Homo sapiens: one gene and its partner. The protein of the gene in region 1 purifies or fractionates together with the protein of each later gene. This does not show direct contact. Each region holds a gene or a part of one and is shown on either strand. Other genes may lie near its edges.

Region 1 (7,468 bases):
CCAGAAGGCACGCCCACCTGAAACACCTTGTTCTGCAGCTTGATCTTCCGGTACTTCTCCTCCTCGGGGTGCAGGTGGATGTTGTCCAGGTACCTGGGGTAGGTGGAGAAGGTGAGTGGGGCACAGCCCAGGCTGCCCACCCGGCCCCTCTGTGCCTCCTGCTCCAGGTAACAGCAGCTCAGCCACACTTGGCCTCTAGTCAGAGGGAAGAAGCGGCCCAGTGACGCGAGGGCAGCAGACCATCTCCGGGTGGAAGGCACACCTCGGACACCCCATGGAGCCCACCCCTGGTGCCAGCAGGAGCCCCACGGAACCCCTCACCGTCCCACCAGCCCTGGAAGGGCACAATTAACCACAGCGGTGGGGAAGCCACAGTGCCGGAAGAGTGGAGAGCCAGAGCTGAAGGGCCGCAGTGCCAGCAGGGGGCTCCTGCGGGGTGCTCCCTCGGCGTTGGCGGGCAGCGTGGACCTCCAGGCCTGCCCCCGATCCTGAGACCCGGGGAGTGGGGTGGGACCCTGCCTCCTCCACATGTTCCCCAAGGAAGCCAGGGTGGGAAACCCCTGATTCCTTCAACACCTTCATTTTGCACACGGGTAAACTGAGGCCCAAGGAGGCCCAGCCCTTTGCCTGAGGCCTCTGGGTGGAGCTGCCTCACTCTCGGCCTATGCTCCTTCCCAACCCACCTCAGCAGGTAATGAGGGGGCCAGAGGGGGTGACAGCCCCAGTGGGAGGGGTGCTGGGATGAGCTGGAGGGGCCAGGCAGGGCAAAGGGGCCACACGCTCACTTGGCAATGGTGTCCACACCCAGCTTCACCCGGTCCTGGTCTTTGTTGAACGTGTAGATCTTCATGATGGAGGCGGCCACTGGGTCGGTGGAGAAGTGCTGGGAGGAGGGAAGCAGGGAAAGCCACTCACTGAGAGCCCGGGCCGCACGGCCCTCCGCTGCCCAGGTAACAGGGGCAGGAAAAGGAAGGCAGAACAGCGGCTTGGAGCGGCCCCAGCTGTGCGCTCATCACAGAAAGGAAAAGAGAGACCCTCCAAGACCGCAGCCCTGCCCACGCCCCAGGGCAGAGGCGACGCAGCCAAGACCCAGCAGAACTCAAGTCTCCCCTTCCGCCTTCTCAAGGCTAGATCCATGGGACTTGGAAGCCAGTGTGACGCGACAGAACTGTGCCTCACACTCTGGCTTTAGAACTCGACCTCAGTGCTGAGATCCATCAAGGCCACCGCCACTTACAGAACCTCCCGCCACCATGGACGCCCCATCCCTCCTGCTCTCGCAGCCCCATGATGGACGTTCTGGAACCACTCCCGGGCCTCATGTTTACAAAGAGACCGAGAGGCCCATCGTCCAGGGTCACAGGGATGGCAGGTGGCAGAGAGGACACAAATGAGTCTGCAACCCTCAATGTCTGAAACTCAATAGCTGGAAGACGGATACCCCCAGCCCCTGCCCCTCCCCGAGGTCCCACCTATCCACCTATGTTACCGGGGGAGGGGAGAAGTCATAGCTGGAACTCTGGGGGTTTCCCAGAACCAGCCCTGCTGACTGCGAACAGCGTCCCAGCATGGAGAGGCTGAGAACAGTACGTACCCTAAGACCTGGAAAAGATTGGGGCACAAATCCACGCTCGGCACAGCCATCACACACGGCCACACCCAGAGAGCCACCCATGGCCTGGGAAGCAGGGCTGCCACCCGCACCTCCCTGGGCTGCCCAGACGAGGGCGGGTGAACAGAAGGGCAGCCCAGGGCCATGTGTCAGGATTCGGGCCACCTGCCCAGGCAGCCCAGAGCTCCACCCACCACCCCCCACCCTCAACTGCACAGCAGGGTCCCTCAGCAGCCCCCTGCGTCACACGGACCAATGACCTACACACTGAGCCGGGGCTCATGCCAACTGAAAATTGGGACCCGGCCCAGTCTGCCGGTTTAGTTGCTGAGATGATGTGGGGAGCGGGACAGAGCACGTGGATGCAGAGAGGCAGAGCTGCCAGATGGGCATGTCCCCAAGACAACAGCTTCCTTGGGATCAGAGCGCCCGGGACAGCACACCAGCCAAGGGAAGCGTGTCAGCTCCAAAAGCGGGCCTCGGGCGTTTTGGGCGACTGGCTGCCAGGCTTAGGTCAGGAGCTGGGTACATGCACAGACAAGGGACGAAGGAACAGCAGCCAGGAAGGGGTCCAAATCCATACAGGAATGTACTTTGTGAGAAAGGTGGGATTTCACAGCTGTAAGCAAAAGACAGGTGCTCTCGACAGGTGGGGCTGAGAAGAAAGCTGAGCCAAGATCTAAAAAAAAAATTACATCAGCTCCATCCCACCATGTTACATAATAACATGCTCCAGCTGGATCAAAGCTTCAACCATGGAAACAAGCAAGCAGTCAAGGAGAAGCCAGAAGAAAAGCTCTGGAGGCCGGGCACGGTGGCTCATGCCTGGAATCCCAGCACTTTGGGAGGCCGAGGCGGTCGGATCACGAGATTAGGAGAGCGAGACCATCCCGGCCAACATGGTGAAACCTCATCTCTAAAATACAAAAGTTAGCCCGGGTGTGGTGGCGTGCACCTGTAGTCCCAGCTACTTGGGAGGCTGAGGCAGGTGAATTGCTTGAACCCGGGAAGCAGAGGTTGCAGTGAGCTGAGATTGCACCACTGCACTCCAGCCTGGTGACAGCAAGACTCTGTCTCAAAAAAAAAAAAAAAAAAAGCACTGGAGAGGCCACAAAAGAATTCTCTCAGCATGGAAATGGGGAAGGCATTTCTAAGAATGACCCCAAACCCAAAAGCCATGAACTAAAACTGACACATTTAATTATACAGAGATCAAAAAATCCTACACAGCAAAGTGACCATAAGCAGAGCCAACATAGAAGCAACTAGAGGGAAACATGTGCAACTCATATCATAGGCAAAAGCCTAAATTGCCTAATATGTAAAGAGTGCTGCCGGGCACGGTGGCTCCCGCCTGTAATCCCAGCACTTTGGGAGGCCGAGGCGGGCGGATCACGAGGTCAGGAGATCGAGACCATCCTGGCTAACATGGTGAAACCCCGTCTCTACTAAAAATACAAAGAATCAGCTGGGCGTGGTGGCGGTTCGCCTGTGGTCCCAGCTACTCGGGAGGCTGAGGCAGGAGAATGGTGTGAACCTCGTAGGCGGAGCTTGCAGTGAGCAGAGATGGCGCCACTGCACTCCAGCCTGGGCGACAGAGCGAGACTCTGTCTCAAAAAAAAAAAAAAAAAAAAAAAAAAAAGAGTGCCTACAAATCACTAATAAAAAGACAAACTATCTACTAAATAATGTAGAAAGGACGCATTCTCATATGAAACATGGCCAATCCAAAATAAGGAAAGTGCAAATTAACTCTATCCTGAGATGTTATTTTCACCTACCAACAGGCGTAAAGATCAAAGTTTGGTGATTTACAGTATGGTGAGAGGATGGGGACACGGGTGCTTTTGCACACACTGCTGGAGTGGGTGTGAGTCTGGAGAGTCTATGGAACTATTACTATTTTGTTTTGTTTTGTTTTTAAGATGAAGTTTCGCTCTTGTCACCCAGTGTCCACGCTGGAGCTCAATGGCGTGATCTGGGCTCACTGCAACCTCCACCTCCCAGGTTCAAGCGATTCTCCTGCCTCAGTCTCCTGAGTAGCTGGGATTACAGGCGCCTGTCACCACGCCTGGCTAATTTTTGTATATTTAGTAGATAGGGGGTTTCACTATGTTGACCAGGCTGGTCTTGGAACTTCTGACCTCAGGTGATCCACCTGCCTCAGCCTCCCAAAGCACTGGAATTACAGGCAAGAGCCACCGCGCCCAGCCACTTACTATTTTCTGAGAAAGGGTCTCACTTGTCACCCAGGCTGGTGTGCAGTGGCATGATTACAGCTCACTGCAGCCTCTACCTCCCAGGCTGAAGCAATCCTCCCACCTCAGCCTTCTGAGTAGCAGGGACTGCAGGTGCACGCCACCATGCCCAGCTATTTTTTTTTGTTTTTGGCAGAGACAGGGTTTTGCCATGTTGCCCAGGCTAAAGCCGAAGTTTCTGAGAACCTATTGATGGTGTTAAGTGAGGACTTGCTGTATTGGAAAAAAATGCTGTGGACGTTTTTATTTTTTGAGATGGAGTTTTGCTCTTGTTGCCCAGGTTGGAGTGCAATGGCGCTATCTCGGCTCACCACAACCTCTGCCTCCTGGATTCAAGCAATTCTCTTGCCTCAGCCTCCCGAGTAGCTGGGATTACAGGCATGTGCCACCATGCCTGGCTAATTTTGTAGGAAGTTCTTTCTGTATTGAAGCAAATAATACTTAACCTTTTATGAAAAACAACCAGGCCACGCGTGGTGGCTCACGTCTGTAATCCTAGCACTTTGGGAGGCTGAGGCGGGTTGATCACTTGAGGCAAAAGTTCGAGACCAGCCTGGCCAACATGGTGAAACCCCATCTCTACTAAAAATACAAAAATTAGCCAGGCATGGTGGCAGGTGCCTGTAATCCCAGCTACTTGAGAGGCTGAGGCACGAGAATCGTTTGAATCCAGGAGGCGGAGGTTGTAGTGAGCCGAGAATGCGCCACTGCACTCCAGCCTGGGTGTCAGAGTGAGACTCCATCTCAAAAAAAAAAAAAAAGACACCTAGTTGGGAGAGAGGAGATACAGATGCATACACAATGGTGTGCCTGGATTTGGGGTATCAGAGGAGGGGCTTCACTACTAGCAGTGGCCTCTGGGGACTCTGGGAGGGATCTGTACCACCTGGGCTTCCGATGGAGGGTGGCTCAGGCACAGGAAGCTACAGGTTGGGGCAGGAGCACACAGGGTGCCACTCACCAAGAGAATGGCCTCCTTGATGCAGGCGTCCCGCTGGTCCTTCCTCAGGGTGGCCCCAGTGAGCGGACAGGTGAAGTACACGCCAGGCACAGCCAGGTGGGCAGAGCCTTCCTCTCTGGGCTCAGATACCTGGGGCGGTGAAAGCGTCCAAGTCTGGACCGTGGACAGAGGCCACCCCGACCCTCGCCGAGCACCACAGTCCTGAGTGTGGCCCGTAGAACCAGACATCTCCAGCCCCCATGCTGTCCCTTCCACCTGGTGGCCGTGGGAGACACCCTGGCCAAGTGACCGGATCCCCGAGTCTTTTCCCTGGTATGTCAAATGTCCCTGTGGGGCCTGCTCAGAACTAAACGAGGTAAGGAACGGAAAGTACGGAGCAGCTTCTGACACGCAGGAAACACCCAGCAGATGGCAGCTGGGTTCCTGCTGGTCCTGTCCCCAAGCTGTTGAGGAAGGAGCTCTGTGTGGGTGTCTGCGGGCACAGTGCGCTGGACAAGGCATGACTTCTGGGCCTCCATTTCTAGGCCATCTCTAAGGTCCCTGCGTGCTAAAATTCACTGAATCCTCGAGGGTCAAGCTGCTTAGAACTCCTTTCAGCGGAGCTCTGAAGGCCCACCTCCTAGAGGAAGGCCTCCCTGATTCCACCCGTCTCCACAGAGCCTCTTGACCTCCAAGGCAGGCAGGACTGGGCAGTGCTAGGGGACAGGCTCTGAAACCACAGACTGGCTCTGGTCCTGCCTTTGCTGGTCCTGGGGTGTAGGAGAGAGGACAGCTGGTTTCACCTCTCTCAACCCCGGTTCTCTTTTTGAATAGTGGAAACTGTAACTGCATCTGCCCTTAAGGGGTTAAGGGGAGGGAGCGATGGGCTCGTGTACCTGAGGCCCACTTCTCCAGGCCTGAGCCGGCATCCTCAGCTGCCGAGCCCCGAAGGTCCCAGACAACACCGTGTTCCACCACAACCTGTGTCCACCTTGCAAGGCAAGGTTTTCCAACAGCCCTTGAGCCCCAAGGGCAGAGGCCACATCTCCCCCGTGACACAGTCAAGCTGTCCCCACCCCTTGGCATGGGACAGTGCCACCAGTGGCTGTTCTTACCACGTTGGTCCCTGGGGCCTCGGGGCTCCCGCTGACGGTGGCTTCGGCTTGAAGTTCCTTTCTCACTGGAAGGCAGCCCAAGAAAGAGAGGCAGAGACGGGATAGTGAGCACGCCGCTGTCCTGGCCCAAGCCCCCTCATTCCCGGGGTGGGCCTGGGGGCCACGCACACCGCCCCAGCCTGCTTCTGCTGGAGGTCAGGCTGGAGGTCCCCTGCAGGACTTGCTGTGCAGCCACCCCTCAGCCTGAGCAAGCACCCCACTGCCTGGGCAGCCCGTTTCTGCTCCAAGTCTCTGCTCCCACCCCCTCCCCAGGAAGCTGCCCTTCCCCCAGCACCTGCCCTTGATGAGCCGCTCCCAAGGGTGACCCTCACACCCCCACGGTTGCTCATGTGACTTCTGCATCCAGGGCCAGGCACCAGGGCCGAGAACCTCAAACAGCCCCAACCTGGGCCCGAGGAGGGCCATATCTCACCCTGGTTTCGGATGGTGTCCTGCGATGTGGGGCCCCAGGCCCGGGACTGCTTCTGCTCCAGCCGGGCTAGGGCGGCAGCGGCTGCCATCTGTGCCTCATTGGTGGGTCCCTGGCGGGGCGGCCTGGGGGCTGGCTGGTTGGGCTTCTCTTTGTGGGCCTTTTCCCTGGGAACAGACCGAGGGAGAGTGAGTGTATCCTCCCGAGGTGGCCGGCAAAGCTGACGTGCAGTCACACAGAGGAGCTTCTGCCCCTCCCCAGCACCATCAGCCAGACGTGTCCCTGCCTATGTGGGCCAGGACACCTGGTTCCCAGGGGCCACCTGCAGCCACCAGATGGTTCTACTGCAGGCGGAAGAGCCCCTGGAGGAAGGAGATGCTGGTTCCACTCAGCTCTGCACCATCGGGCAAGTCCTGCCCCCACTGGCCCTCAGCGTCCTCATCTGTAAAATGGGGTGACAGCACCCCTCCTGAGGTGAAGGCACCTTGACATCCTCAGTGCTTTTTTTCTTTTTGAGACAGGGTCTTGCTCTCTCACCAAGGCTGGAGTATAGTGGCACGATCATGGCTTACTGCAATCCTGAGCTCCCAGGCTCAAGGAATCCTCCCGCCTCAGCCTCCCAAGTCGCTGGGACTTAGAGGCAAGCATCATCATGCCTGGCTAATTTTTCTATCGAGACAGGGTCTCGCTATGTAGCTCAGGCTGGTCTCGAACTTTTGCCTCAAATGATCCTCCCACCGTGGCCTCCCAAACTGCTGGGATTATAGGCATGAGCCACAGCACCCAGCCCGCATCCTCAGGAATTGAGGAGACTCAAGGGGTGTCACATCCTCCCTCCCTCCCTGCCATAAGACTCTCCACCCTCAGGTCACAGCTTCGTTTGCTGAGCACCTACTGTGTGCCAGGACCCTGCTGGGAGCTGGTCGGCTCGCTTGGTTTACTCCTCCTAACAAGCTGCCAGGGAGGCCTCACCATCCCATTCCTAAACCCAAGAGGGACAGGAAGTCCGGGCGATGTGCCCCATGCCACGCCACCCTCGTGGCGGGACCCTGGGGAGAGCGGACAGCAGAACCA
Region 2 (7,862 bases), on another chromosome or scaffold:
GCCAGATGACAAAACTGCACAGCAAAACAAGTTGTTGTTTTTTGGGTTTTTTTTTCTGAGACAGAGTCTCACTCTGTCACCCAGGCTGGAGTGCAGCAGCACGATCTCGGCTCACTGCAACCTCCGCTTCCCAGGTTCAAGTGATTCTTCTGCCTCAGCCTCCTGAGTAGTTGGGATTACAGGTGCACACCACCACACCGGCTAATTTTTGTATTTTTAGTAGAGACGGGGTTTCACCACGTTGGCCAGGCTGGTCTCGAACTCCTGACCTCAAGTGATCTGCCTGCCTCGGCCTCCCAAAGTGCTGGGATTACAGGCGTGAGCCACCATGCCCAGTCAATTTTTGTATTTGTATTTTTTTTATAGAGACAGGGATTCGCCGTGTTGCCCAGGCTGGTCTCAAACTCCTGGACTCAAGCAATTCACCCACCTTGGTCTCCCAAAGTGCCGGAATTACAGGCGTGAGCCACTGTTCCCAGCCTAGAATTGGCATTTGAAAGTCTTTTAAGGCTGTAGCCACCTGGGAGGCTGTGTGCTAATGAGCACAGAATCTTTGGCCAGGTGGTGGGTACTCGAAATTCCAGCTACTCAGGAGGCTGAGGCAGAATTCAAGCAAGGAAAATTGCTTGAACCTGGGGGAGGTGGAGGCTGCACTGAGCCCACTGCGCTCCAGCCTGGGCGACAGAGCGAGACTCCATCTCAAAAAAAGAAAAGAAAAGAAAAGAAAATTGTCATTTCTCCATTTCACCTTTTTCTAACTTTAATTTTTAAGTGAGTCTGACATATAACAGAAAGTTAAATCCCAACATGCTCAATTGAGGCCACACACGGTGCTAGTGCCAGAGCTTGACCTCTGTTTCTCTGGCTCCTCCCTAAAGCACAAGGACATCGAAGCTCTTGTAGGGGCGGCCAGCCTCTCTGGAACCATGAAAGGTCCTATAACTTCAAGAGCTTCCATCAGAAAAAAAAAAAAAAAAAAGAAGAAGAAATAAGAAAGCCAGGAACGGTGGCTCACACCTGTAATCTCAGCACTTTAGGAGGTCAAAGCAGGAGGACCACTTGAACCCCAGAATTCGAGACCAGCCTGGGCAACATGGCAAACCAAATCTCTAAAAAACATTTAAAAAATTAGCTGGGTGTGGTGGTGCGTGCCTGTACTCCCAACTACTTGGGAGGCTGAGGAGGGAGGATTGCTTGAATCCTGGAGGTTGAGGCTGCAGTGAGCTATGATTGCGCCACTGCACTCCAGCCTGCACGACAGAGTGAGACCTGTCTCACAAAAAAAAAAAAGTTACTTAAAAGCTAAATTATTTTTAACTTGAAATGTTCCATGGACTTCACGAGTAAATGTTCTGGATTTGCCAAGCAGTTTTGATTTCAATTGGCCTGTCTCCTAATCATACACAGACTTACCTAACACAGATTCTGATTTTCAAGGGGTTAAGGGTGGATCAACCCAGAGTTAACCAACAGCAGGTCCTAAAATTCAGGTATGTCTGGCAGCAAACATCCTCTGTGGCATTTATAAACTCCTACTACCCAGGACGATCCACACCTGATTTACATTGGCTGCGGTCAATGCTGCTGTTTTCAGGAATATCCCTGGGTTGTTTCATTTCAAATCTACCTATTATTTCTTCAAGTGCTAGACCTGAAGAATTTTGGAAAATTAAGATCACTCCTAAGTTTCCACACCACCACGCAACTGGCAGCTAGCATCCCATTCTCTGAAATGCGGATGTTGTACAAATACTTTTTATAATAAGCTATCTGCTCAGCGAAAGTTTCCAACATTAGATGGCATGAAGGTCATAAGTAGCTCAAAAACCACTCTCTTAAAAGGAAAATAAGAACTCCTAAAACAGCCCTCCTCCCAAAAAAAAGGAAGTGGACCTTTCTGGGTTCCCTGGTTTACTAACTGGGCCTTTGGAGCTGTTCTCCTGACCAAGCCAACCCCATAACCACTCAAAAGGGATTTCCGTAGGTAGAACTTGCAAATGGTTAATGAATCAATGCCTTCTCCATAAAGCAAGACCCAAGGAATTACAGCAGTGAACAACGGTGGGGATACTGGATCCCCCAGAGGGTTCCATAAACGTTCTGCTTACAAGGAGGATTAAAGTTCTCGATGCCACTCTCTGGGACCCTGTCTTGATCCTCAGAATCTCAACCCTGTGGGGAGAGCAGGGTGGCTGTCTTACTACCAGACCCACTGATCAGAAAACGGAGGCTCCAGGAGGTATCTTGCTTGCCAAGAATCAAACCAGGGCCACCCAGTCCAGTCCTGTCTCCTTTTGTGCTGGCATCATTCTCCAGCTTGGCCAAGCTCAGAGGCAAGGCAAGGCAAGGCTGCAGCTTTAAGGGTTTAAGAGAGGAGACAGCCACTTTCATTGAAACAGCCCCAAACTCCTTATTAGTGGTCACCAGTTTACACAAGGGTAACTCGTTTTGAAAAACAATACGCAGAAAGTCGAAGTCAATCAAGCTCACTGAAACCTCTACTCTCCTCCCCCTGGCGCCCAAGAGACCTTGAACTCTTACCCAATTGCTCCCCCGATCTAAGGGTGTCCCGGCTCCCCCAGGAGATCCGGGTACCTGTGTTGTGGGGGCCGCCGAGACACCTGACTGCGAGGGGCACTGCCCTCAGGGATGCAGGCCGGGCTGGGGGGCTCCCGTGATCCATCGACTCAGCCCACCTGATGCTGCAGGGTTAGATTCGGGTCCCATGAGCATGCATCGAGCGCCTCTCACGTTAGGTACCCCCAGAATTCGCTGCCTCCCGAGGCCCATTCATCGTACAGATGGGGAAACTGAGGCTCGGAGAGTTAAAGTGGCTTAGCCCGTGGGGGGCGGCGGCGCGGGGACTGGACCCCGAGCCCTGAGATACCGAGCCCTAACCCTCAGCCGAGGGCCTGCCGGGCTCTCTCGGCCCAAGCTGTGGAAAAGTCGACCCTCAGGCCGCCGCGGGAGATCAGCTCTAGGGGAAGGGCGACGCGGAGGAGGGCCGGGGTGGGAGCCATGCCTTCCGCCCGAGCGTCGGGCCAGACGCGCAGTGCCCAGGCCCGAGGGCCCACCCCGACGCAGAGAGCCAGGCGGCCGCGGTGAACTGAGGCGCCCGGCAAACCCCGAGTCTTGGGGCCCGACCTCACCCACCCCGCCGTCGCCGCGAAAGATAGCACTCACCGCTGGCAGCCCGGCTGCTCTCTGCGGGCACCTGGGCAGGGCTCAGGCCCACACCACTGAGGCGCTACCACCGCCTTCGCCGGCCGCGGGGGTGGGGGCGTGGCCATTGGGCCGCCGCCCCGCCCACTCGAGCCGCGCGTGCATTCCCGGAGCCCCGCGCTTCCCCCTGCAAATTTGCGCTCTTGGTACGGCCCGGCCCGGCCACGCCCCCTCGCGGCTCGGCTGGGTCGCCCGGCAGAGAAATGAAAGTGCGTGGTTCCGGGGGTGGCGGAGTCGCCTGGAGACGGCGGCTGCGGCTTCTACAGCTCGGACCCTGCAGGTCACCGGGCCGGCTGCCCACCTTCCCGGGGATCACTGCAGAACTGTGGCTGTGCGCCCGCCGGTCTAGCCTCCTCCTTCGGGCCGCCGCTTGCTTGTGATCGCCACATTGTCTCCTCCACGGCCCTGTTTCCTCACCTGAAATTGGCGAGGCTTCAGGCCCAAGTCGTCTCCCTGGGTTCCCTCCATCCAGCCTGACGGCGGAGGGCGCGCGTTTGTTTTTAGAGACAGGGTCTCGTTCTGTCGCCCAGGCTGGATTGCAGTGGTGCAGTCACAGCTCACTGCAGCCTTCAACTCCTGTGCTCAGGCGATTCTCCCACTTCAGCCTCCCAGTAGCTGGGACTACAGGCGCGCCACCACACCTAGCTAATTTTATTTTATTTTATTTGCAGAGATGCGGTCTCGCTATGATGCCCAGGTTGGTCTCGAACTGGTCTCAAGTGATCCTCCCTCCTCGGCCTCTCAAAGCGCTGCGATTACAGGCGTGAGGTCCCACACGCTGCCTAGAGCTCGCTTTTGAAGGCCGGCCTGTTGGGGGTGGGAAGTGACCAAGCAGGAGGCAAGCCCTGGATGGAAGAGGAGTGGGGGGATACAGAGAGCTTCTGGGGTTTGAAAAGTCTGGCAGCCTTGGTTGGGGAGTGAAGCCCACCTCTGCCTCCTGCTATGGTTTCTACTTTACAGGGTCATGAAGATTAAGTGGTATAACCTTTGTTCCTAAAGGATTTAGAGCACGGCATTACTAAGTGTTCTCATCGCCATTGTTATTATTACTACTACTACTATTATTACTAGCTGTGCTGTGAATTCCTTTTGCAACACTGTGCAACTCACTTCTCTCAGAGCCCCTTCTCCATCTTTTAAAAATAGCCCAGGCACGGTGGCTCACGCCTGTAATCCCAGAACTTTGGTAGGCTGAGGTGGGCGGATCACCTGAGGTCAGGAGTTCGAGACCAGCCTGACCAACATGGCAAAACCCCGTCTCTACTAAAAATACAAAAATTAGCTGGGCATGGTGGCGGGTGCCTGTAATCCCACCTACTGGGGAGACTGAGGCAGGAGACCCACTTGAACCCCGGAGGCAGAGGTTGCAGTGAGCCCAGTTCACACCACTGCACTCCAGTGTGGCCGACAGAGTGACACTCCGTCTCACAAAAAAAAAAAAGTTAATTTATAAAATAATACATAAATATAACATTTATATATTATATAAATGTTATATTTGTTATATTTATATATTATATAAATAATATATATTATATAATAACATATATGTTACTTATTTTTTGAAACAGGGTCTCCCTTTGTCGCTGAGGCTGGGATGCAGCCTCGACCTCCTGGGCTCAGGTGATCCTCCTGCCTCAGCCTCCCTAGTAGCTGGAATTACAGGCATGCGCCACCACAACTGGCTAATTTTTGTATTTTTATTTTTCATTTTAAAGAAAGTTGATTGAAATTTTTTTGTAGAGATGGTGTTTTGCCATGTTTCCCAGGCTGGTCTCAAACTCCAGACCTCAAGCAGTCCTCCCACCTTGGCCTCCCAAAGTGCTGAGATTACAGGTGTGAGCACTGCACCTAGCCTAATTTTTAAATTTTTTGTAGAGACAGAGTCTCGCTATGTTGCCCAACCTGGTCTTGAACTCCTGGCCTCAAGGGATCCCTTGCCTCGGCCTCCCAAAGTGCAGGAATTACAGATGTGAGCCACCATTCCCATCCACTCTTCATCTTTAAAATATTGTGAAAATAGCAAAATCCTATATAAAGAGATTATTACCATGGCCCAGGTGCCAGGTTTCCTATGTCCAGGAACCAGTCCCTCCAACAGGTTGGATGAATGCAGTAGCCCTCAGGGTGGGGCACAATACCTGTCCAAAGAAGGGACTGAACTCCACACTCACCCAGAGAGAGAGCTGTGGAGAAATTCACCCAGATATCTGATACTCTGTGCCATCTTTTCAACACCCTGTTGGACATCTCCCCAGGATGTCCCAGTGAGGCTTCAAATTTGGACTTTGACTCCATGCCCCCTGCTTTTTTTGAAACCAGAACTCCTAAAACACTGAGTCTTCTCTGTCTGCTAATAATATAGCATCACTAAGGAAACATCAGGAAACAGGCATTTTACCTCTTTGGCCTTTTCCCATTGAACCAATAACTGGGTCCTATGGATTCTATCTCCAGAACCTCCTCTTGTCATCTTTTCTGCTGTCCCTGTTCCAGTTGGGGCCACGTGGGTTCACCGTTCACCTGGATGATCTCAGCAGCTTCCTGACTTTTTTGGGGGGGATGGAGTCTCACTGTGTCACCCAGGCTGCAGTGCAGGGGCACCATCTCAGCTCACTGCAACCTCTGCCTCCTGAGTTCAAGCGATTCTCCTGCCTCAGCTGCCTGAGTAGCTGGGATTACAGACTTGTGCCACCACACCCGGCTAATTTTTGTATTTCTAGTAGAGATGGGGTTTCACCATATTGGCCAGGCTGCTCTCGAACTCCTGACCTCAGGTGATCCATCTGCCTTGGCCTCCCAAAGTGCTGGGATTACAGGTGTGAGCCACCGCACCTAGCCGGCTTCCTGACTGTTTATGTCACTTCTCGTTTCTGCTACACCCACTGGCAAGGAAGCCTCTTTTTTTTTTTTTTTTTTTTTTTTTTTTTTTTGAGACAGGGTCTCACTCTGACACCCAGGCTGAAGTGTAGTGGTGAGATCTAGGCTCACTGCAACCTCCACCTCCTGGGTTCAAGCGATTCTCCTGCCTCAGCCTCCTGAGTAGCTGGGATCACAGGTGTGCACCACCACACCTGGCTAATTTTTGTATTTTTAGTAGAGACGGGGTTTTGCCATGTTGGCCAAGCTGGTCTCGAACTCCTGACCTCAGGTGATCCATCCTCCTCAGACTCCCAAAGTGCTGGGATTACAGGCGTGAGCCACCACACCGAGCTGAAAGCTTCTCTTCTTCAGTTACTGTCCTCCTCATTGTCCTACCTTCCTCTCCTTCCCTCCCCACCCCCACCCCGAAAAAACACTCTCGCTGGCCAGCTGGGGGGAAAAAAAGTAGGTTGCATCCACATCTCACATATTACACTAATATAAATTCCAGATAGATAAAATATTTAAATGATTTTTTAAGGGAGAAGGAAAAAAAAAGCCCCCAAAAGTCCATGGGAGAATTGGTGTTAATAATCCCCAAGAGGCATTTCTAAATTATGAAATTATGACATAAACTCCAGAAGCCATAAATGAAAACATTGAGAAATAATCTGGGCTGGGTACAGTGGCTCACGCCTGTCATCCCAGCACTTTGGGAGGCTGAGGTGGGAGGATCGCTAGAGCCCAGGAGTTCGAGATCAGCCTGGCCAACATGACGAAACCCCGTCTCTACTAAAAATACAAAAATTAGCTGAGCATGGTGGCACATGCCTGTAGTCCCAGGGGTGGCTGAGACAGGAGAATGGCTTGAACCCGGGAGGCAGAGGTTGCAGTGAGCTGAGATTGCGCCACTGCACTCCAGCCTGGGTAACAGACTGAGACTCCGTCTCAAAAAAACAAAAACAAACAAACAAGGGGCCGGCAGGGCACGGTGGCTCACACCTGTAATCCCAACACTTTGAGAGGCCGAGGCAGGCAGATTACTTGAGGTCAGGAGTTTGAGACCAGCCTGGCCAACATGGTGAAACCTCGTCTCTTAAAAATACAAAACATTAGCTGGGCGTGGTGGGCGCCTGTAATCCCAGCTAGTCGGGAGGCTGAGGCAGGAGAATCGCTTGAACCTGGGAGGCGGAGTTTGCAGTGAGCCAAGGGTGCACCACTGCACTCCAGCCGGGGTGACAGAGTGAGACTCTTGTCTCAAACAAACAAACAAACAAGGAAGGAAGCTCATTGCTTAAACAGAAAAATCTCTGAGACAAATTGATAAATATGCAAGGTACAGAACAGTAGGTATAGAATGTTACCGTTTGTATGTTCTCAAACAATTGTGGTGGGAAATGAGGGAAGAACATAGATACTAGGTATACATATTTGCCTGTATGTGCATGAAATACCTCCTGAAACAAAAACAAAAACAAAAAAAAAAAAAAGGGAGGGAGGTAAGGTTGGTTGTCTCTGGAGAACTGGGAGGAGGGAGACCAGGGGCAAAGGAATATATTTCACTATATACTACTCTGTATCATTCAAATTTTGTACCTTATGAATGTATTACTTATTCTAAGTCAAATACATAAATACCTTTTTTTGTTTTAAATTAGAGACTGGGTTTTGCTCTGTCGCCCAGGATGGAGTACAGTGGCATGATCATGGCTCACTACAACCTCTGCCTCCTGGGCTCAGGCAATCCTCCCACCTCAGCCTCCGAGTAGCTGGAACTA

The links. Proteins that work in one complex are often made in the same cells at the same time.
Region 2: the proteins of UBXN6 (region 1) and POR purify together in Homo sapiens (affinity purification with mass spectrometry; 4 studies listed by BioGRID and IntAct, with this or other methods). This does not show direct contact.

What each region holds. Positions count from the first base shown.
Region 1 is NC_000019.10:4,447,533-4,455,000, forward strand, and holds part of UBXN6 (UBX domain-containing protein 6), read right to left. Parts: intron 6,562-7,468; coding exon 6,398-6,561; intron 5,991-6,397; coding exon 5,926-5,990; intron 4,961-5,925; coding exon 4,832-4,960; intron 3,299-4,831; exon of another isoform or gene 884-3,298; coding exon 786-883; exon of another isoform or gene 94-785; coding exon 18-93; exon of another isoform or gene 1-17. UniProt on the Homo sapiens protein: May negatively regulate the ATPase activity of VCP, an ATP-driven segregase that associates with different cofactors to control a wide variety of cellular processes.
Region 2 is NC_000007.14:75,910,501-75,918,362, reverse strand, and holds the start of POR (NADPH--cytochrome P450 reductase), read right to left. Parts: upstream 3,209-7,862; 5' UTR 3,184-3,208; exon of another isoform or gene 2,596-3,183; intron 1-2,595. UniProt on the Homo sapiens protein: This enzyme is required for electron transfer from NADP to cytochrome P450 in microsomes. It can also provide electron transfer to heme oxygenase and cytochrome B5.